Regions from separate parts of the Homo sapiens genome. Here regions 2, 3 and 4 are each linked to region 1. Evidence: fine-mapped expression QTL. A gene starts in region 1. Each other region holds a variant in brackets. All regions are shown on one strand. Distances are from middle to middle. Region 1 holds the start of SOAT1 (sterol O-acyltransferase 1). Region 2 overlaps AXDND1 (axonemal dynein light chain domain containing 1). Region 3 overlaps SOAT1 (sterol O-acyltransferase 1). Region 4 overlaps SOAT1 (sterol O-acyltransferase 1).

Region 1 (5,340 bases):
CTGGGCACAGTGGCTCACGCCTGTAATCCCACCTCTTTGGGAGGCCGAGGCAGACCGATCATCTGAGATCAGGAGTTTGAGACCAGTCTGGCCAACACAGTGAAACCCTCCCTGTCTCTACTAAAAATACAAAAATTAGCCGGGTGAGCTGGGCGCGGTGGCTCACGCCTGTAATCCCAGCACTTTGGGAGGCTGAGGCGGGTGGATCACCTGAGGTTGGAAGTTCGAGACCAGCCTGACCAGTAAGATCTGATCAGTCTTTACTAAAAAAAAAAAAAAAAAAAAAAAAAAAAAAAAAAATTAGCCGGGCGTGGTAGCACATGCCCGTAATCCCAGCTACTTGGGAGGCTGAGGCGGAGAATCGCTTGAACCCGGGAGGCGGAGGTTGCGGGGAGCCGAGATCGTGCCATTCCAGCCTGGGCAACAAGCGCCAAACTCCATCTCAAAAAAAAAAAAAAAAATTAGCCGGGCGTACTGGGACACGCCTGTAATCCCAGCTACTTGGGAGGCTGGGGCATGAATATCCCTTGAACCTGGGAGGCAAAGTTTCAAAAAGTTAGGCACAGTAAGAGATTAACAATATACTGTATTAAAATTCACTTGAACATGGTATCTCTCGAAATGTCTTATTGTACTCTGTTTCGCACCTCAGGTAGCTGAAACTACAGAAAGCAGTTAAGTGGGGATCACTGTATTTCTCATTCAAAAGTTCCTTCCTCTGTCCACCAACTTATTCATTCTTTCTCTGGGCCAAGTGCTGGACCAGACCCTGAAAATTACAACAGGCTAAACCAGCCTTCATGAAATGCACTAGCAGAGGAAACAAAGCAACTAATTCATTACAATTAATGATCAACTTCTGCTAAGGAGAATAAAGAGTTCATGGAGGGCTTAATGGGGATGGGGTGATTTCCAGAGGAAGTGATATGTGGGCTGATATCTGAGGCAGGTATAAGAGTTGGAGGGAGGGAGAGAATACAGCATTAGAGGTGGAGGAAACTCCTAAAAGCCAAGAGAGGAAAGAAAATGAAGCTTTCCAGTAACAAAAATAAAGCCAGTGTGGCATGAACCTGGAAAGCCAGAAGGAAAGTGGGCCAAATGAACCAGAGATAGAGTGTGCTCACTCAGTAGGTCTTTATCCTAAAAGACTGCGAAACCTCAGATGCATTCTAAGCATGTGATTCACTAAAACACGTGCATTTCTAAACGATAATTCAGTGCCACAGAGCTCCTTCCAAAACCCATTCTCACACCCAGACAACGCACAGACTTCCTTAACAAGTCATTCACTGACACCGCCCAACTTTTAAAAAGAAAAAAAAAAAGCTTCAAATTGAATTCTACTTCAAGGAAGAGGAAATCAAGCAGGCTGAAAAAAAGAAAAAAGTGGTTTAAACAGGTGGCAGCCACTTAAATATTAAAAAGTGACCAACAGGCCAGGCGCGGTGGCTCACGCCTGTAATCCCAGCACTTTGGGAGGCCGAAGCGGGCGGATCACTTGAGGTCAGGAGTTTGAGACCAACCTGGTCCAACATGGTGAAACCCCGTCTCTACTAAAACTACAAAAATTACCTGGGCGTGGTGGCGCACGCCTGTAATCCCAGCTACTCAGGAGGCTGAGGCACAAGAATCGCTTGAACCCGGGAGGCAGAGGTTGCAGTGAGCCGAGATTGCGCCACTGCACTCCAGCCTTGCGACACAGCGAGACTCCGTCTCAAACAAACAAAAGTGACCAACGAACTTAACCTAAATATATATACGGAGAATAAAGTTTATATAGTTGTTTCTCACTTAGAAATAACCTTTCAATATACATATTATTTAAATTACATGACCATTAACACTTAGGGAAAACAGAAACTTACCTACATCCTAATATTTTACAATAAAACATGAGCTTGATTAAAGGTTCTGGTGCCCCTACAGATTTTCATGTCTTGCTAATACCATCCTTCCCTTCACACATTTTCTCTAAATCATTAAAAAGCTGACTTCCTGAGTGCATTTTTGGTTTCGCTTTTTAAAGAATAAAACGTCTTCTAATTCCTAACTTTCTTTACTACTGACTTGAGAGATGCCACGAGATTTGCGGAACACCAAACCAGCGTGCAGGGTTTAAAAGGCTGCCCGTGACCCGGGCGCCTGACGGTAACTTTCCCGCCCTCCCCTCCCCAACTCCCCTGCAGTCGCCGAGCCTCGCCTTCTCCGCAGCACAGCCCAGGACAAGGCCGGGCCGGAGCTGCTGCCGCCACCGCTTCTCCCTTCCCCGCGGGCTGAGGCCGGTGGACCCAAGCGGGAAGCGAGGAGAGGCGCGGGAGCACCACCGTTACCTGAGGCCCGCGCCCGGCAGCGGGCACTTCGGCCAAGAGGGCAGAGCCGGGAAGCGGTCACAGAGCAGCCAGCAGGAAGGTCGACTCCGGGAAGCTCTCCTGGCGCCCAGGGCCCGCAACGTCGCCTGCTAAGCTAAAGCGCCGGACAGCCCGGCCCCTACGCCCCCTGCCTCCGAGCACCGCTGCGTCACGCGCAGGGCCACCTCCGGCTGAGCATCCTATTGGTGGTCCCCAGGTTGCCAGGCTCCGCCCACCTCCCCGCCCCTTCCCGGGCGCGCGGGTCCCCGGCGCCAGTGCTCGCAGGCTGGCCCTGGCAACCTGCCAAGGAAGCTTCTCACCCGGACATCATGATACCGGCGACAACATCTTGCTTGACACTTCCACCCCAGCAGTAGAATGTGCAGCCAAAACGGGACTGCGACAACTCCCTGCAAGCCCGAAACGGCACCCTGCGTGGTAGCATGGAGCTGCAGGGGCGTTTGGCTCCTAGGCCGACTGGAAGAAGCCGCTTCTGGAGCTGTGGATCATTGCAGTTTGAACTGACCATCCAGGAACAACGTAGAACTAGCCAGAAGCAAGAATCGCTGGCTTATCTGCACACCAAGATTCGTGCCTTTATCAGGAGATTCCTTACCGTTTGAAAACCAGCGTCCTTCAGCAACATTCAAACTAGATAAGGGGAAAAAACCTGCACCAAATAATAAAACACACCAAATAATGGAACAACTAAGTAATATTTAAGGGCCCTTGAGGCCAGGTGCGGTGGCTCACGCCTGTAATCCCAACACTTTGGGAGACCGAGGTGGCTGGGTCACCTGAGGTTAGGATCGAGACCAGCCTGACCAACATGGTGAAACCCCGTCTCTACTAAATACAAAAAATTAGCCGGGCTTGGTGGCGCGCGCCTGTAATCCCAGCTATTCGGGAGGCTGAGGCAGGAGGATTGCTTGAACCCGGAAGCCAGAGGTTGCAGTGAGCCTAGATTGTGCCATTGCACTCCAGCCTGGGCAATAAGAGCTAAACTCCTTCTCAAAAAAAGTTTTAAAAATAAAATAAACAAAGGGCCCTCGTGACTTCATAATCAAAAGAAGAATGATGCAGAGAGATTTGGGACAGAGATTAAATACAACAGTTAATCGCTTGGAATTTGTGAAGGCAGAGGTGTACGTAAATTTAGGGTAAAGGTAGGTGAAAAGGCAATGATGAGAGGAGCAGAGACTGAAGAGTCGCACTCACAGCCTGCAAACTAATACCAGCTAGCCTGGCCTGACTAATCGCTTCTTCCCCACTCCTCCCCAGGACAAAAATCCCTGAACAAACAGATGAGGTTTAGCAGAACTGACTACTCTCTGGGTCCTTTAAACAAAGTGGATTTGTACACGTTCCCTTGGCCACCCAGCAGGCTGCACTGTTCACTCAAAGCAGAAATGGCCCTCAGCATCCAGTCGAGTTTAGTACTGGCTGTCATTGGCAGATCTGCTCCGTTTGGCCTCTTCTACAACTGTGATTGCCACGTGTGCTGACTAGTTGGTGACAGGGTCTGGTAGACCCCCAGCTGCTTCCCCTCCCCACTCCCACTAGTTATAGAGCAGTAGGAACATAGGCACTCATTTCTATTGGGTCTCTGTTGGCTACCTTCTATATACACCAAGATGACTGGCCTTTTCACTGTTTGATTCATTCATTCAAAAAATATTGATAGTATTCTTGGTGCTAGAAATACAGTGGTGAATAAACAGAAGAAGCCCCTGCACTTAGAGGCTTATGTTCTGCAGGACTAGGTATGAAAGGAAACAAACAGGTGGCTCAAGCCTATAATCCCAGCACTTTGGGAGGCTGAGGCAGGAGGATCACTTTGAGGCCAGGAGTCCAAGACCAGCCTGAGCAACATAGTGAGACTCCCTCTCTACAGAATTTAAAAACAACAACAACAACAACAACAATGACAACAAAATTTGCTGGGAATTGTGGCAGGCCCCTATGGTCCCAGCTACTCGGGAGGCTGAGATAAGAGGATTGCTTGTGGTGGGGGATGGGGGGTGAGGGACGGAGGATGCAGTGAGCCAAAAAATCATGCCACTGCACTGCAGCCTGGTCAACACAGTGGGACTCTGTCTCAAACAACAAAAGCTTATGTTTCTAATGAAGAATATAAATAATAAAACGAATAGATGAGATAATCACTGGCAGTGATAAGTACTGAGCAGAAAACAAAACAGAATGGTCAGGGAAGGATTTTCTGAGGAGATAATTCAGGAGCTAAGACCTAAATGACAAGAAGGAGCCAGCCAAGCCAACCATGGGGAGGAAGAACATTCTAGACAGAGGATAATGGGTGTCAAGGCCCCGATGCTGAACTGTGGCTGATGCTGAAGCGTGGCTGTTTGAGGAACAGGCCAGGAGGCTTGAGCATGTCAAATAGGGGTTTGAAGTTGAGTTTGGAGCATTAAGCAGGAACCTAATCACGTTGTTTGGATTTATCTGTTAAGTGCAAAGGCAAGATAATGAAGGGTTTGGGTTTTTGTTGTTTTGAGATGGGGTCTCACTCTGTCGCCCAGGCTGGAGTGCAGTGGTGCAATCAGGGCTCACTGCATCCTCTACCTCCCCAGGCTCGCTAAGTCATCTTCCCACCTCAGCCTCCCTAGTACCTGGGACTACAGGTGGGCGTCACCACACCAGACTAATTTTTGTATTTTTTGTAGAGACAGGGTTTCGCTGTGTTGCCCAGGCTGGTCCTGAACTCCTGGGCTCAAGTGATCCTCCCGCCTCAGCCTCCCAAACTGCTGGGATTACAGGCATGAGCCACGTGCCCGGCCATTGGTTTATTTTTTTTTTTAAATCAACCTATTTTATAGAGAATGACTTGAAGGGAGCAGCAATGGAACAAAAAGGAGCCGAAGAACAATACAAAGTTATTGGGCAAGTTCAGGGGGTAGATGGTGGTACCTGGACTAGGCTGGTTGGTGTGGAAATAGAAATTGAAAGATTTCAGGATATTTTCCCGAGGTGC
Region 2 (5,340 bases), 210 kb before region 1:
GAGTGGTTGCTATACAATGACATCAGTTTCTGTCTGAAATAGGCACAGGAGCAAGGATTCTCAGAACTGAGTCCTCCTAAAAAATGGCCTCCCGCTGTATGAGGTCAGACTGGATCAAGCTATGCCAGGATCAGGTGGATGGTAAATAATTAGCCCCTGGACTGCCTTAGTACTCTTGGGGAACTAGATAATCCCTATCTGTTTCTGAAGAAGCAATTTACCTAGACTGTTATGGAAAGTGGAGTAAGAATTTATATCAGTAGGGGTGATCAAACTCCAAAAGATGGTTACCTAGGAGATCTTCAATTTTTTTCTGTTTTTCTTTTTTCTTTTTTTTTTTTTGAGATGGAGTTTCGCTCTGTTGCCCAGGCTGGAATGCAGTGGAGCAATCTCGGCTCGGCACAACCTCTACCTCCCGGGTTCAAGGGATTCTCCTGCCTCAACCTCCTGAGTAGCTTGGAGGCACCCACTACCACACCTGGCTAATTTTTGTATTTTTAGTACAGACACAGTTTCACCATGTTGGCCAGGCTGGTCTCAAACTCCCGACCTCAGGTGATCTGCTTGCCTCAGCCTCCCAAAATGCTGGGATTACAGGCATGAACCACTGCACCTGGCCAAGATCCTCAGTTCTGAACCCTGTCCAGCATCATGCAAATCTCCTTGGCTGGAAAGAAGCAGAAACATTAGCTTGTGGGAAACTCTCACTAATGTCATCCAAATATCAGTCTAGTAGGTCAAATGCTAGAATGTGGCACAAGCCACACAGCATTACCATAGAGCTGCATTAGACAAGGCTTCTCTGGAAAACCATCTTCTTTTCACCTTGTGGGATGTGGATGAGGCCATAGAAATCCCAAAGTCTGATGTCATAAAGATTCATGTACCATAGAGGTTTGTCTAGATCAGGAGAAGATGGTAGCAGTCCAGGATGGTGATGAATTTGAAATAAAAATAACCTTCATGAAGATGGAACTAACCATTTTTTTAAAGAGTACCTCAGTATGGTCTGCTAAGCCCCTTACCATAAACTCGCTTGATATACCCTTGAGAGGCCTCAGGCTTAGGGAAAAGGCATATGCATTTTCTTAGCAGAAGAAGGCCTTTGCATAGGCTCAGTTACAGCCTTACCTCTGGTGTGAGAGCAGATTCTCAGCCTCCTCTGATAAGACTCCCCCAGTTTATTTATCTGAAATCACTAGAGAACGGTTAGTGAGTGAGAAAGAGCTTAACAGAGGACCAAAGTAGCACTAGTGGAAAGTGTAGGTCCTCAAAGAGATGGTCAGGTTATGGGCATCCAGTCAGGGGATGGGGTGGCGCAGGGCAATGAATGGCCATAGCACAAGGCTTCCACAAAATCTCCTCATCTGGATAATTTTATAAGTTCCTGAACCCTGAAGTTCCCTCAGGAAGGGCTCCTCATGATAGTGTCCTCCATATGGCTATAGCCTTAACTTTTATAGGGAGATACACCTCAAAACATCTTGAAATCCTCATTCCAGATTACCTTTATCTGAAAACCTGGTCTCGCCACACAGAGCTCTACCCACTTTTAGGTAAATGAGGACTAAGTGTGTCATAGAGTTGGCCAGTGGGTCTCCACCACCATCTGTGGCAGGTCCAGCCTGCCAAAATCAGGATCCCCACCACATCCTGGGGTGGACAGAAGAAGGGGCTATTCGCAGCAGGCCTGAGAAGGCTTGAACACATTTCTAGATGTATAGTGTGGGTTCCAAGAGACTGCTTGGTTCAGAAGTATAACAGCCTGTTGTGAAGAATCCTTCTGAAGCCTTCCCAGAACCAAAATGAGAACTCAGACATTTCATTCAACTCTTAGATGAGAAGTGATATATACCTATAGTAGCATATTTTCAAATAGTAAAATATTATTGCTTCCCTGACATACACCCTAAATGTTCATGGTGTTTTAGTCTTGTAATTTTCTACCACATTAAATTTGCTATTTTAAATTTGGATTTAGCACCTATATATTAATACATAAGATTTATTTTCTCTATACTCATCTGGACTTTTTAAAGGACATTAGTAGCTATGTGAAATAAAATGGGAATACTTTCAGTCGTTATCTATGCTCTTACACTGTTTATATAGCATGGGGATTACCCTACTCCTTGAAAGTCTGCATAATTCTCAGCAAACTATCACAAGGACAAAAAAGCAAACACCGCGTGTTCTCAATCATAGGTGGGAATTGAACAATGAGAACACATGGACACAGGAAGGGGAACATCACACACTCCGGGGACTGTTGTGGGGTGAGGGCAGGGGGGAGGGATGGCATTAGGAAATATACCTAATGCTAAATGACAAGTTAATGGGTGCAGCACACCAACATGGCACATGTGTACATATGTAACAAACCTGCACATTGTGCCCATGTACCCTAAAACTTAAAGTATAATAACAATAAAATTAAAATAAAAATAAAAATTAAAAAAAAGTCTGAAAAAACCTGTCTGAGGAATCCAGGCAAAATTTTTAGCATTTCTAAAAATTAGTGCATCCAATTTTTCACTGAAAATTGGCCAATTTTCTCCTTCAAGGATTAATGATACTATTTTCCTAGAAAAGTCTCCATCTCCTAGAGATTTAAAATGTATTAGCAAGATGTTGTACATAAATTTTATAACATAAAAGTTTTTAAACAGTTTTATAATAGTTATAAAACTGTTCAAAAACTGTGAGATCTGTCATACATACAGAGAGACATAAAATACACATATGCAGTTTAAAGAGAGAATTGCTCCCTACATGCCAGTCCTCATATACCATAATATTCATAATATTTATTCTACTATTTATGGACATTTGAGTTGTTTCCAGTTTGAGGATACTTCTAGAAATAATCTTGGAATATCCTTTTTTTTTTTTTTTACACGGAGTTTTGCTCTTTTTGCCCAGGCTAGAATGCAATGGCACGATCTCACCTCACCGCAACCTCCGCCTCCCGGGTTCAAGTGATTCTCCTGCCTCAGCCTCCTGAGTAGCTGGGATTACAGGCATGCGCCACCACGCCTGGCTAATTTTGTATTTTCAGTAGAGACGGGGTCTCTCCATGTTGGTCAGGCTGGTCTTGATCTCCCAACCTCAGGTGATCCACCCGTCTCAGCCTCCCAAAGTGCTGGGATTACAGGTGTGAGCCACCA[C/T]GCCTGGCCAGAATGTTCTTATGTATGTCTCTTAGTCTAGAGCACTTGTGTAAGAGCTTATCTAGTATACTGACAGATGAATAGAATTGTTTGTTGCAAAGTGTGTTGCAACTTTAACAGATAATGTCAACTGATTTCCAAAGTGGATGTACAAATTTATATTCTTACCAGCAGTATAGAAGTACCTGTTGCTCCCTCATTCTTGTTAACACTTGTATTGCCAGACTTTGCAATTTCTTTTTTTTTTTTTTTTTTTTTTTAGACAGAGTTTTGCTCTTTTGCCCAGGCTGAAGTGCAGTGGTGCAATCTTGGCTCACCACAAACTTTGCCTCCCGGGTTCAAGCGATTCTCCTGCCTCAGCCTCCCCAGTAGCTGGGACTGCCGGTGCGTGCCACCATGCCGGGCTAATTTTGTATTTTTAGCAGAGACAGAGGTTCACCACGCTGGCCAGGCTGATCTTGAACTCCTGACCACAGGTGATCCGCCCACCTCGGCCTCCCAAAGTGCTGAGATTACAGGCGTAAGCCACCACACTCGGCCTAGACTTTGTAATTTTTGCCAGCTTGTTATGTAAGTAGTGATATTAGTTTGTATTTCCCTGATCACTTATGAAATTGAGCAGCTTTTCATAAGTATGTCAACCATTGGGATTTTCTCTTTGGTGAGGTATACATTCAGGCTTTTTGCCCATTTTTCTATTGGGTTGTGTATTTTTATAATATTGATTCCTAGAAGGTCATTTTCTATTCTGGATACTGGTCCTTTGTCAGTTATAAGTGTTGCAAATACAGTCTCCCATTTTGTGGATTGTTTTTGTTTTAATGGTATTTTCTTGACAAAAATAATTCTTAAATTTAAGGTAATCAAAATTATGAACCTTTTCCCTTTGAGTTAGTGCTTCTTATCTCTTACTTAAAAAAAATTTTCCTACCCCCAAGATCTTAGATATTGTCTTCTAAAAGCTTTATAATTTTGACTTTCACATGTAGGTTTCTAGTCCATTTGGAATTGATTTTTGTGTGAAGTAAAAGTCTCATTTCATCTCTCCTATATAGATAGCCAATATTCCTAGTTTTTGAGTTTTTTTGTTGTTGTTTTGTTTTGTTTTGTTTTAAGACACAGTCTCACTCTGTCGCCCAGGCTGGAATGCAGTGGCGTGATTGGCTCACTGTGACCTCCGCCTTCCCGGTTCAAGCGATTCTCCTGCCTCACCCTCCCCAGTAGCTGGAACTACAGGGGTGCACCACCACACCTGGCTAATTTTTTTGTATTTTTAGTAGAGATGGGGTTTCACTGTATTAGTCAGGATGGTCTCGATCTCCTGACCTCATGATCCACCCGCCTCAGCCTCCCAAAGTGCTGGGATTACAGGCGTGAGCCACTGCACCCAGCCCCCTAGTATTTTTAATTGGAAAGTTCATCATTTCCTCATTAATTCTGTATGCCATGCTTATATAAAAGGCCATAAATTTTTGGTTCTGTTTTTTGATTCCATTGACATAGTTGTCCATCTTTGAACTAACACCATGCTGTTTCAGTTTAGCTTTACAAGAAGTTTAAAATATGGGAGGATGAGTCCTCTCACCTTATTTTCAAAAGTGTGTTAGCTATTCTTGGTTCTTTGAATATCCAAAACAGCTTTTAGAGACAGTTTGTCAAGTTGAAAAAAAAACTGTTGGAAACTTGATTGTGACACCTAGATTAGTGCTGTTTAATAGAACTTTCCATAATAATAGAAATGTTCTATATATGTGTGGTCCAATATGATCCCTGGTAGCAACATGTACTATTAAGCACTTAAAATATGGCTAATATGACTGGAGAGGTGAATTTTTAAATTTAAATTAATTCAGCCAGGCATGGTGGCTCACACCTGTAATCCCAGTACTTTGGGAGGCTGAGACGGGTGGATCACTTGAGACCAGGAGTTCAAGACCAGCCTGGCCAACATGGCAAAACCCTGTCTCTACTAAAAATACAAAAATTAGCCAGGTATGGTGGCCTGTGCCTGTAATCCCGGCTACTCAGGAAGCTGAGGCACTAGAATCTCTTGAACCCGAGAGGCAGAGTTCAAGAGAGCTGACATCGTGCCACTGCACTCCGGCCTGGGCAACAGAGCCAGATTCTGTCTCAAAAAATAAAAATAAATTAATTCAAATGTGAATAGCAATAT
Region 3 (5,340 bases), 61 kb before region 1:
CCGGGAGCATGGCTCATGCCTATAATCCCAGCACTATGGGAGGCTGAGGCTGGCGGATCATGAGGTCAGGAGTTCGAGACCAGCCTGACCATCATGGTGAAACCCCATCTCTACTAAAAACACAAAAATTAGCTGGACATGGTGGCAGGCACCTGTAATGCCAGCTACTCGGGAGGCTGAGGCAGGAGAATCGCTTGAACCCAGGAGGCAGAGGTTGCAGTGAGCTGAGATCACAGCACTGCACTCCAGCCTGGTGACTGAGACTCCGTCTCAAAACAAACAAACAAACAAAACATTCACTTTATTCCTTGAAACATTTATGTCCAGTTCCCTCCATTTCAGAGCCATAAAGCCTAGAGATAAGATACATAAAATACCCAGAACAGACCTTTGTGTGTATACAGTGTATGTATACATACCATATGTAGCATTGTTATGTAGTATTACATAAATTACATGAAATTTTGCATAAGATTAGTAAGCAAGTCACTGAAACTTTATTAACAATAAGTATGGGCTTGGCATGGTGGCTCATGCCTGTAATCCCAAAGCTTTCTGCAGTGGGAGTTTTGCTTGAGGTGAAGAGTTTGAGACCAGCCTGGGCAACATAGGGAGACCCCCCCCATCTCTAAAAAAAAAAAAACAAATAAATTAGCTGGGTGTGGTGGTAGGCACTTGTAGTTCTAGGTACTCCAGAGCACTATTTGAGTCCAGGAGTTTGAGACTGCAGTGAGCTATGATCACGCTACTACCAGCCTGGGCAACAGAGTGAGACCCTGTCTCTTTAAAAACAAAAACAAAGTATGAGCTATCTTCCATTAAAAAACTGATTCTGGAGCAAGGAGCCAGGAGCCGTGGCTCACACCTGTAATCCCAGCACTTTGAGAGGCTGAGGCAAATAGATCCCTTGACTCCAGGAGTTTGAGACCAGCCTGAGCAACATGGTAAAACCCCATCTGTACAAGAAAAAAAAAACTGGCCTGGGCGACAGAACAAGACTCTGTCTTAAAAAAAAAAAAAAAAAAAAAAAAAGGCAGCCTCAGTTTTCTAATTAAATTCTAACATGAGGCAAGCAACTTTACCTGCAAAGTTTTAGTATGTGAATCTACCAACAAACAAAACAAAATTCCATTTTGCATCATTATCCAAGATTGAGAATAAAAGGATCTAACAAATTTATCCTCACACATAAAGGTACTAGAAGGTCAAGTTAGAGATCTAATGAGAAAGTGATATACATACTACATAATTGTTCTGTTGGTTAATATGCCCAAAATAATAGTTACTATCATTACATCTTACAGAAACAAAAACTTTAAGCTTATTACTTTTCAGAAGGAAAAAAGTATCCTATAACTGAAAATAATTTTCGCCACAATAGCAAAATAGAAAAAATAAATCTTCCTGAAACATTAGCAAGAGATTTTAGTTTTTATTTGTTTAAAGAGTATAGGTGGTGGTTTCAAGAAAAGACTTTTGCTAAAAGCAGCTAGCAATAAGATTATGGCTATCAAACCAGTTTCTTTCATAGAAAGTGACCATTCCTTGAAGTGCTACTGTTTTTGAAAGTTTCTTAGAACAGTCTCAGCATTCTAAACAGTCTGTAGTTCTACATATTTGTTGTTGCAATCTTGGGCAGGAAAATCACTAATAACAGGAAACAGAGGCCGGGCACGGTGGCTAACGCCTGTCTTCCCAGCACTTTGGGAGGCTGAGGTGGGCAGATCACAAGGTCAGGAGTTTGAGACCAGCCTGACCAACAGGGTGAAACCCCATCTCTACTAAAAATACAAAAATTAGCCAGGCGTGGCCCTGTAATCCCAGCTACTCAGGAGGCTGAGGCAGGAGAATAGCTTGAACCAGGGAGGCAGAGGTTGCAGTGAGCTGAGTTCACGCCATTGCACTCCAGCCCCGGCGACAGAGCAAGACTCTGTCTCAAAAACAAACAAACAAACAAACAGGAAGCAGAGAGCTTTTTGAAAAATAGCCTTGATCAATCCAACAAATACAGTATTCAGAAACACTACAGAGCAACAAAGTCTTCTCATAAGAGTCATATTTATAGTATTTCTTAACAGAAATATAAACCTAAGAATTCCATTCTCTAGATTCAAAAGATTGGCTTGCTCATAACCAGGTCTCAGCGCAATCTGTCCCCAATATATTTAAAATGCAGTTATAAATTCAAAATAAAAATTCGTTTTAATTTTAAGAAAAATGTCAAGAATTACAAGCCATATTAAAGCAAACTAGTTAGCAGGTTATGATTCCATTACAATTACAATACTGTTGTGCAGAACATTACTGCGGGAACATGCAGAGTACCTTTTTAAAAATAACTTCCCTTGAGTGTATTTGTTTCCGTTGAAGTTGGATTTAATGTTTGAAAATTACCTAAACTCATCTGGACCAGTGGTATCGTGAGTAAGATACGTGATTAAGCTGGATACTTGTGGTTCAAATTAAGTTGTGACTATTAAGAAACTCTACTTACCTTCTTGTGAGACTCAAACTGACTTTAAAACAATTCCAAACAATACCAAGAGAGCCTCTCAAGTGGCTGTTCCAAGTAACAACTATCATTTAAATAATTCATAAATCTTA[C/T]TTTGAGTGGAAAGTTGAACTACATGGTCTCTGATACCCCTTCCAATGCTCAATCTTTACAATCATACCTCATACATACAAATAATTCCTACACACATTGTATTAGAAATGGGCATCTTATAAAATGGAAGTATTACATAATAGAGTACATTTCCTTGAAACCAATCACATATTAATTTATTCCACCTAAAAACATACTACCATTAAAAGTATAACTGAGCAAATGCAGAAGCCAGCTTCTGGATTCTTAATGATCACTTTAATATGAGTGGAGGTGATTAATACTTATGGTACAGACTCACTAGTCTGCAAAATAATTCAAGAGAAGTCAATATTTATTAGACAATAAAATAATTGTTCCAAAGGATATTTCTAAATAACTTCAAAGAAGTTACCACAAAGTTAAAAAGGAATATCTTCCATGTTAAGTTTGTGATAAAATAATTTAAACACATGATTGACTCTACAAATCTTTTTTACAAATTACTTCAGAAGTTATAAGAGGAAATGTTTTTCTTTTTCCTCTGCTATCTCTTATTTTTTCCTTCCTACTTCTGATCCCCTTAATATACAATATTATTGATGTAAACTCAAGAATTCATGGTAAAAGGCATCTTTTTGCTTCACAGAAATCATGACCTATAGAGAAAACAAGGTAAAAACTAAGGAAAACTGAACATTGAACTTTTTTCAAAAAAATTACAAAATAGGATGTATAACATTATCTTTGGAAAACAGACATTTTCTTTCTACTAGAAATAGCAAAAATCATTCTACATTTTTTCTTCCCCAATTGCATGTTCAATTAGCATACATTCCAACAGTGTGCATGAAAAAATTTCTAAGCCAGAGGTATTTAAGTGATTTCTTCCTAAGTGTTTTGGCTAATTCAGTGGCCAAGAAACTATGATGTTTATTCTCTGATTGGACAGAGTCAAGAAACAAAACAGATATAATTACCAAGGGATAAAGCTGATATGACCCAGCAACAATCTGTCATTACTTCAGCTGTTAGTCGGTCTTCTCCCCCCACCCAGCCCCACAAAAAAAGTTCTGCTCTGCTTAAGTGTACAAGACTCCAGTGAACTTCCAACAGTTTGGCTTCAAGTGACCTAGGAATGGAGTGAGTCATCTGTAAAGCCTGGAGTGGTCCAAATAACACAGATAACTTCAGTAACAACTGGAAACAGCTGGCTCCAAATCAGGGAGCTACCCAATCTTCAGTGACAAGGAGGAAACAAAGTCCAAGCTTCTAAAACACGTAACGACAAGTCCAGGAACGTGGCCGGACATAATCCAAAAATGTGGGCTGCAGTGGGGAAAAATAAGAATGGAAAAATAATTTGTGTACAGAGTAGAGGAGGTGTGGAGATAGGCAGGGATGTTAATATGATACATTGTACATCTCTAAAATGCCTCCCACCATTTCAACAACCCTCAAGGTATAAGCAGCTCACTAATTCAAAAGATGTTCAGTACTTTTATCTATAACACAGATTTATTCAATTAGGTGCTTCACATAAAGCTTTTAAAGTCCAGTAAACTATACACAATTGTGTGGACTTTGACCAGTTTCTAAATAGGCACTATTTCTTTCTGTATCTTTATTTTAGCACAGCCCTACTTTTAGTACCTTAAAATCTAAATGGTGGTTAAGGACGACAAATAGATATATATATATATATTTATATATAACCACCATTTAGATTTTAAGGTACTAAATATTAGTATATATTAGTTAATATATAATATATAAATAAATATATAAATATAAATATATATTATATATACACATATATAAATGACTAATATATACATAAATGACATATATATAAAAATGACTAATACAAGGTTTAAAATTACTGAACTATCAAAGGAGGAGCAAATGAAGCACTACAAAAGTTCAGAAATAGGAAAGAGAGGGAAGCAAGCATTTGAAAAATCATCATGGAAGATGTGGCATCCAAACTGGATTTTGATAGGAGAATAAAATCTGACATGTGGAATCCAGGTGACCAGGGACAGTCAAGAGCAATTACTTCAGATGAACAAAGGAGATTAATATGAAATAAAGAGGGAGAGTTGAGGCAGCCTAACAGACATAGGGTACACAGAAAGAGGGGAAGCTTTGGAGAGGAAACTGATTAATTTCATTATGGACATCTTCAGTTACAGATGCCTATGAGAAATACCCAGGAAATAAATCAAGAAGGTATCCCCTCCAAACCTGGAAGGTTGTAGGGATTGAATGAATTATTAGTAGGGCCACCAAATTTAGCAAATACAAGTACAGGATGCCGAGATGAACTTGAGACAAATAGCTCTATCTGCCATATTTTTTGTAATTTACTGAAAAAAGCAGAATATAGGACATTTGGGGTGTTCTAAGAAACCCAATACAGGAGGCAGGACAAAAATGTTAAATATAGGACACGCCCTATATGCACAAAAAGCCTGGCAATCCTACTTCTTAGGGTGTTTCCATCATGAAATTCTATCCATAACTATAAGCAGTACTTTCAGCTAGTGCTAGTAGATCTAATTAACCAGATCACATCAATTAAATTAACCAGAGTGTTTGCTGGGAAATTCCTATGTCCTATACTGTGTTACTTGAAAATAAAATTCTTAAAAAAAAAAAAAGCCATCCTCCTAAAATCTGTACCCATGTATAGCTAAAAACTAAAGTCCTAAGAATAAATGAAACCTGAATTACCAAAAACAAAAATAGAATCA
Region 4 (5,340 bases), 46 kb before region 1:
TGGGGTGGGGGGAGAGGAGGGGAGGGGAGGAAGAAATAATGAACAAAAGAAATTACATACTTGATTTCTCCTTAGCTGAATTTAGTACCCGAGGCACGTTCTCTCTGACAAATGAGTGGGCCTTCATTACAAAACGAATCTACAAAAGCAGGAGGAAAAAGATGTCTCTTCAAAGAAAGTCTCCTGCAAGTGTCCTTTCCATTAGTCAAATGCATTATAGATAGCCAGTAAAGTCAGAAAATCCTGATAAGTGTATAAACAAATTAAAATAAAACCTTTATTATATAGTTACATGACAAAACAATGAATCTGACATTTCAAAAGTGAAGTTTTTAATTATGAAAATATTTTATAATTTAAATGACTTTTACAAAAAGTATTCAGAAACAAAATCTTGATGCATCAAAAATAATTCAATGTGGCCGGGCGCGGTGGCTTACGCCTGTAATCTCAGCACTTTGGGAGGCCGAGGCAGGCGGATCGTAAGGTCAGGAGTTTGAGACCAGTCTAGCCAATATGGTGAAACCCCATCTCTACTAAAAATACAAAAATTAGCCGGGTGTGGTGGCAGGCGCCTGCAGTCCCAGCCACTTGGGAGGCTGAGGCAGAAGAATCACTTGAACCTGGGAGGCAGGGGTTGCAGTGAGCCGAGATGGTGCCACTGCACTCCAGCCTAGGTGACAGAGCGAGACTCTGTCTCAAAAAAAAAAAAAAAAGTTCAACGTAATTTATTTATCAAAATTCAGAGAACATGGAAGCTACAATGAAACTTAAGAGGTGAGATGATTCTAGTTTAACAATTTTACAGATAATGGCAAAAGAACAATATATGAAAATTTATCCAAGTTAATACAGCTAAAAATAATAGTATCAGTATGTCATCATCATTATTATTATTTTAGCCGAGGACAGCATCGCCTTGGGTAACACTTAAAACCTTACCTGCTCGAATATAATGATGAACCGGGAAGCTGGTGGCAGTGTATATGCTAACACAACATATGTTGGTCCAAAACCTAGAACTCCAATCTGGAAGATCATGAAAAGAAAGCCATGGAAGAGAGAACGGATCAGCGGATGAGAACTCTTGCTATAGCCAGTGGCCCAATGTTGAAACAGAAAATAGGGAACTGAAAATGTAGACAGGAACATGATCCACCAGGTCCAAACAACGGTAGGAAATTTGCCAAAAGCATAAGACAGGAGGCTGAACTCAAGCACCAGCCTGGGGAGAAAAGGTACAGAAAAAGAACATAGAGGTGAATTTTTAATATACACTGAGTTCACAGAATTTAAAAGTTTCAAACACCAAACTTTCAACCTTAGGAAACACCACAACGTTAATACGCTGAAGTCATGGATGTAATAGTTCTGCTAGTTAGAGATCTGCTTCTAACCATCTGCTTTACAATATATATATATATATATATATCAACAATATATGTTCTTTAGAAACAAATTTTCTAAAAGCCCTAAGATAAATACAGTCTTCAAACTTAAGATATCTAAGATAATTGGACTTTGAACTTCTGAAAGATTAGATTCTCACATTAATTTTCTAACTGTAAAATATTCTATGGAAAATATTCAAACAGCAATCGTTCTTATGTACAAAAGATGATTTTTCAGAAGAAATAGGTACAATTTAAAAATATGTTAATATACTATACCATTATCTCCAAACTTAATTTTCAAAAAAAGTACATAATTCAATCCATGATTACCACGCTGTCATTTTTTAAGCTACAATTTGAGTTTTAAAATTTTATTTTGAGATCTGGTCTCCTTTGCATCCAGGCTGGAGTGCAGTGGCACAAACACAGCTCCACTGCAGCCTCAACCTCCCTGGCTCAAGCGATCCTCCTATCTCAGCCTCCTGAGTAGCTGGAACTACAAGTGTCTGCCACCACGCCCAGCTAATTTTTAAATTTTTTGTAGAGATGTTGCCCAGGCTGGTCTCCAACTCCTAAGCTCAAGTGATCCTCCCGCCTCGGCCTCCCAAAGTGCTGAGATTACAGGCACAAGCAACCATGCCTGGCCTATAATTTGACTTTCACATTAAAAAGAAATATCAACTTTTTCAACCTTCAATTCCAATAAGCTACTTGTTTTAAGTAACCATCTTAAATAAAGACAATCAAAAAGTTAATAAGTCATATACAGTTATCCCTCCCTATACATGGGGGGTTGGTTCCAGGAAACTGTGCAGACACCAAAACTTATGCAAATTCGAGGCCCACAGTTGGCCCCGTGGAACCCACAGATATGAAAAATCTGCCATTCTTATATGTGTGTTTTGCATCCTGGAATACTCTAGATCCCAATCAGCCTTTGCTTGCAGATGTAGAACCCATGGATACAGAGTGCTAAACACATTGATTGAAAAAATTCTG[T/C]GTATAAATAGACATGCACAGTTCAAACCCGTGCTGTTCGTAGGTCAACTGTGTATAAAGTTCTCCCATTTGGGAAAATTACCTAGAAATTACTGATTATGGTCTATTCAAATAAACCATTTTAAAAATAAAAGTAATGAAACTTCTAATTTTCTCCATCAGTTAAACTTTTCAGGGCAAAGGAATATCACCCTCAAATCTGCTGCTTTAGGATTTCCTGAAGCAATTTAATCAATTTACCCTTTACCAAAATTTAGTGAAAACCTCTAACTTCTCATGCATCAACTAGCCAGCCATCTTTTTTGTTGTCTTACCTTCCTTCATCAATGTAATCTACTACAAGTGTGCTGAGGATAAAGAGAATGAGGAGGGCAATAAACATGTGATATATTGTTCTGATGTGGTCCACTTCAAGCAGTTCACTGTAAATGTAGTTCAAACAAAACAAGTTAATAATGTATATTTAAATTTAAAACACCATAAAATCTTTTCTTAAAGCAGTTAACTTAAAGCAGTTGAGAAGATGCTTAATCCACTCTCCAAAAACATCTCAAAAAAGAATGGTCTACATTCTTTAAAACCTACCAGAAATGGATGTTTTCTAAGTAAACAAAGGCCAGTCACTAAAAACAGGAAACAAACTATTTCAAATGTTAAGAATTTTTTAATCCTATTCATATTCTACTCCCTAAATTTAATATATATTAAGTACTACCTATTTCCAAAATGTTAAAATTGACATGAGTTTCTATAATGTTGATCATGATGATGATGATAACCAATTACTACCCTACACGTCTATAAAACTCAACCATTTACAAAGATTTTACCTTCTCATTGACTTTTGTATTTAAGACTGGTCTAATTTTCTTTTAGAATATAACAATAATATAGATGACTTTTCCTAAATAATCTTTTATATCTGACTAAAACAGGTTTTTAAACTTGTTTTAACTTGTTTTTGGAAAGATAATGCTAATCTTTTAAATGATTTTGAGTAATCTAATATACTACTACTCAATCTCTGGACCAAGGATCTTCACAGTCTAATAAAAACTCATCTAAGCCATAGAAAACATGTTTTGTTTCCTTGGTTAAAAATTTTTTTAATATGTAATTTTGTTTATTTTTCATGTATAAATTCTATCATTAAAATCCTAATTATAATGTTTAAAATAAATTTTCTTTTCCCTTTTATGTGAAAAGCCTGCGTTTTCCCCCAGATGTAAACTTTAAAAGATTAATTCCTTCAAACTACAGTGTAACAGAACACTTAACACTATACATTACATGCTTAGAAAACACTGAACAGCACATTACATGCTTAGAAAACCGGCCTTCTTATCTAGGGGAAGTAGTAAACATCAACTTGACTCACAGAAAGTAACTTTTGATAAGCATAAGATGTCTTTTTAAAGAAAAGTACACTTTTTTTTATTGAGACAGCCTTGCTCTGTCACCCAGGCTGGAGTTGCTGGGTGTTGCACCTGGTGCTCAGGCTGGAGTGCAGGGGCACAATCTCAGCCCATGGCAACCTCCACCCTTCCGGGCTCAAGCGATCCTCCTGTCTCAGACTCTTGAGTAGCTGGGATTACAGGCATGCACCACCAAGCCTGGCTAATTTTTTGTATTTTTTGTAGAGAGAGACTTGCCGTGTTGCCCAAACTGGTCTTGAACTCCTGGACTCAAGCGATCTGCCTGTCTCAGCCTCCCAAAGTGCTAGGATTACAGGTGTGAGTCACAGTGCCAAGCCCAGATAACCATTCTTATCCCTAACTCCTCTTTTGAAACTAGATACAGAACCAAAAGATCAGAAAGGAGCAAGAGAGAGCATAGAAGAAAAAAACCCACTAATGATTTATACAGATACAGAACTCATTACATGTCCATATACTAAGCAATGATTCTATCAGAATAGTTTTTTAAAAATCAAACATATTTAAAAACAACTAAAAATACTCACTCTAAGAGAGAGCGCCTTGCAATAAAAATCTTTCCTTGTTCTGGAGGTGCTCTCAAATCCCTGAGAAGAGGAAAAATTAAAACAAGATATAAGTACTTCAAGTATTATAAGAAATCTAATCCCACAGACAAGAGAATATACCAATAACACCATCTAACATTAATTGACCAATGACCTTTTCACTACTAGGATTACAGATGCCCGCCACCATGCCCAGCTAAAACAGATCCAAATATTGTGTTACAGTTTTATGTATGTTACTTCATTTACCCTCTCTGTGAGGCAGGTACATACACAACTCTTAAGAAGGGAAAGCTCGCCACACCCAGCCCCTATGGACTTTGGCAATCACTTTTCCTTCTTGTAGAGAATGGCAAGGTCGCCACACTCAGCCCCTATGGACTTTGGCAATCACTTTTCCTTCTTGTAGAGATCCCCTAAGGTCATAAACAGGCCTCTAAGCACACTCTACTCCAGGTCATATATACTGTTACTGATCTGTCCTCTGAAACTGCACTGATGTTTACCATACCCTTCCTGATATCAAGGGACTTCCAGCAACTCCCAACAGCCTCCTGATCTTAAAGGTTGCTGCAAGTTACTAAAAACTCCCATTTTAACATCTTGCTTATCTTCTTTAGGGCTTTTCGTACTACTACCAGCACTTAACTATAATTGGTCAAAACTATTCTCCAGAACATCAGTCTATGCCTCCAAACAGGGGCATAAAACTGAGAAGAGCATGGAATGGCAAGTTAACACATATTAGCCTTTGATAGCCTTCACTCGATTATTCTGGATGAACCATCAATTAGAAAAGTATATACTAATCGCATTGTACTTTATTACAACAATTGTATAGCAAATAGAGAGGCACGTAATGATATGATTTTTTTTTTTTTTTGAGTCAGTCTCACTCTGTCACCCAGGCTGAAGTGCAGTGGCGTGATCTCAGCTCACTGCAACCTCCTTCCCCCGGGTTTG

Evidence for each region. PIP is the estimated chance that this variant, and not a neighbour inherited with it, causes the effect. A credible set is the group of variants that fine-mapping cannot tell apart.
Region 2: its variant is the best candidate, but not a certain one, in a credible set for the expression of SOAT1 in whole blood (INTERVAL, PIP 0.51).
Region 3: its variant is the best candidate, but not a certain one, in a credible set for the expression of SOAT1 in whole blood (INTERVAL, PIP 0.69).
Region 4: its variant is the best candidate, but not a certain one, in a credible set for the expression of SOAT1 in whole blood (INTERVAL, PIP 0.86).

Annotation. Positions count from the first base shown.
Region 1 is chr1:179,290,927-179,296,266 of GRCh38, reverse strand. SOAT1 (sterol O-acyltransferase 1) reads right to left here and starts at 2,470. Exons shown (of 16, transcript NM_003101.6): 1 at 2,331-2,470. RefSeq lists an enhancer at 1,766-2,273 and a silencer at 2,486-2,675.
Region 2 is chr1:179,500,650-179,505,989 of GRCh38, reverse strand. The region is part of intron 20 of AXDND1 (axonemal dynein light chain domain containing 1); the gene reads right to left. Among named protein-coding and RNA genes, the nearest start is that of NPHS2, 73 kb to the left of the region's middle. The variant C/T (reference allele first, on the strand shown) is at 3,168.
Region 3 is chr1:179,352,158-179,357,497 of GRCh38, reverse strand. SOAT1 (sterol O-acyltransferase 1) reads right to left here. Exons shown (of 16, transcript NM_003101.6): 16 at 1-3,913. The coding sequence ends at 3,857. Among named protein-coding and RNA genes, the nearest start is that of AXDND1, 11 kb to the left of the region's middle. The variant C/T (reference allele first, on the strand shown) is at 2,605.
Region 4 is chr1:179,336,913-179,342,252 of GRCh38, reverse strand. It overlaps SOAT1 (sterol O-acyltransferase 1), which reads right to left. Exons shown (of 16, transcript NM_003101.6): 5 at 4,357-4,416; 6 at 2,708-2,815; 7 at 943-1,225; 8 at 61-139. Among named protein-coding and RNA genes, the nearest start is that of AXDND1, 26 kb to the left of the region's middle. The variant T/C (reference allele first, on the strand shown) is at 2,394.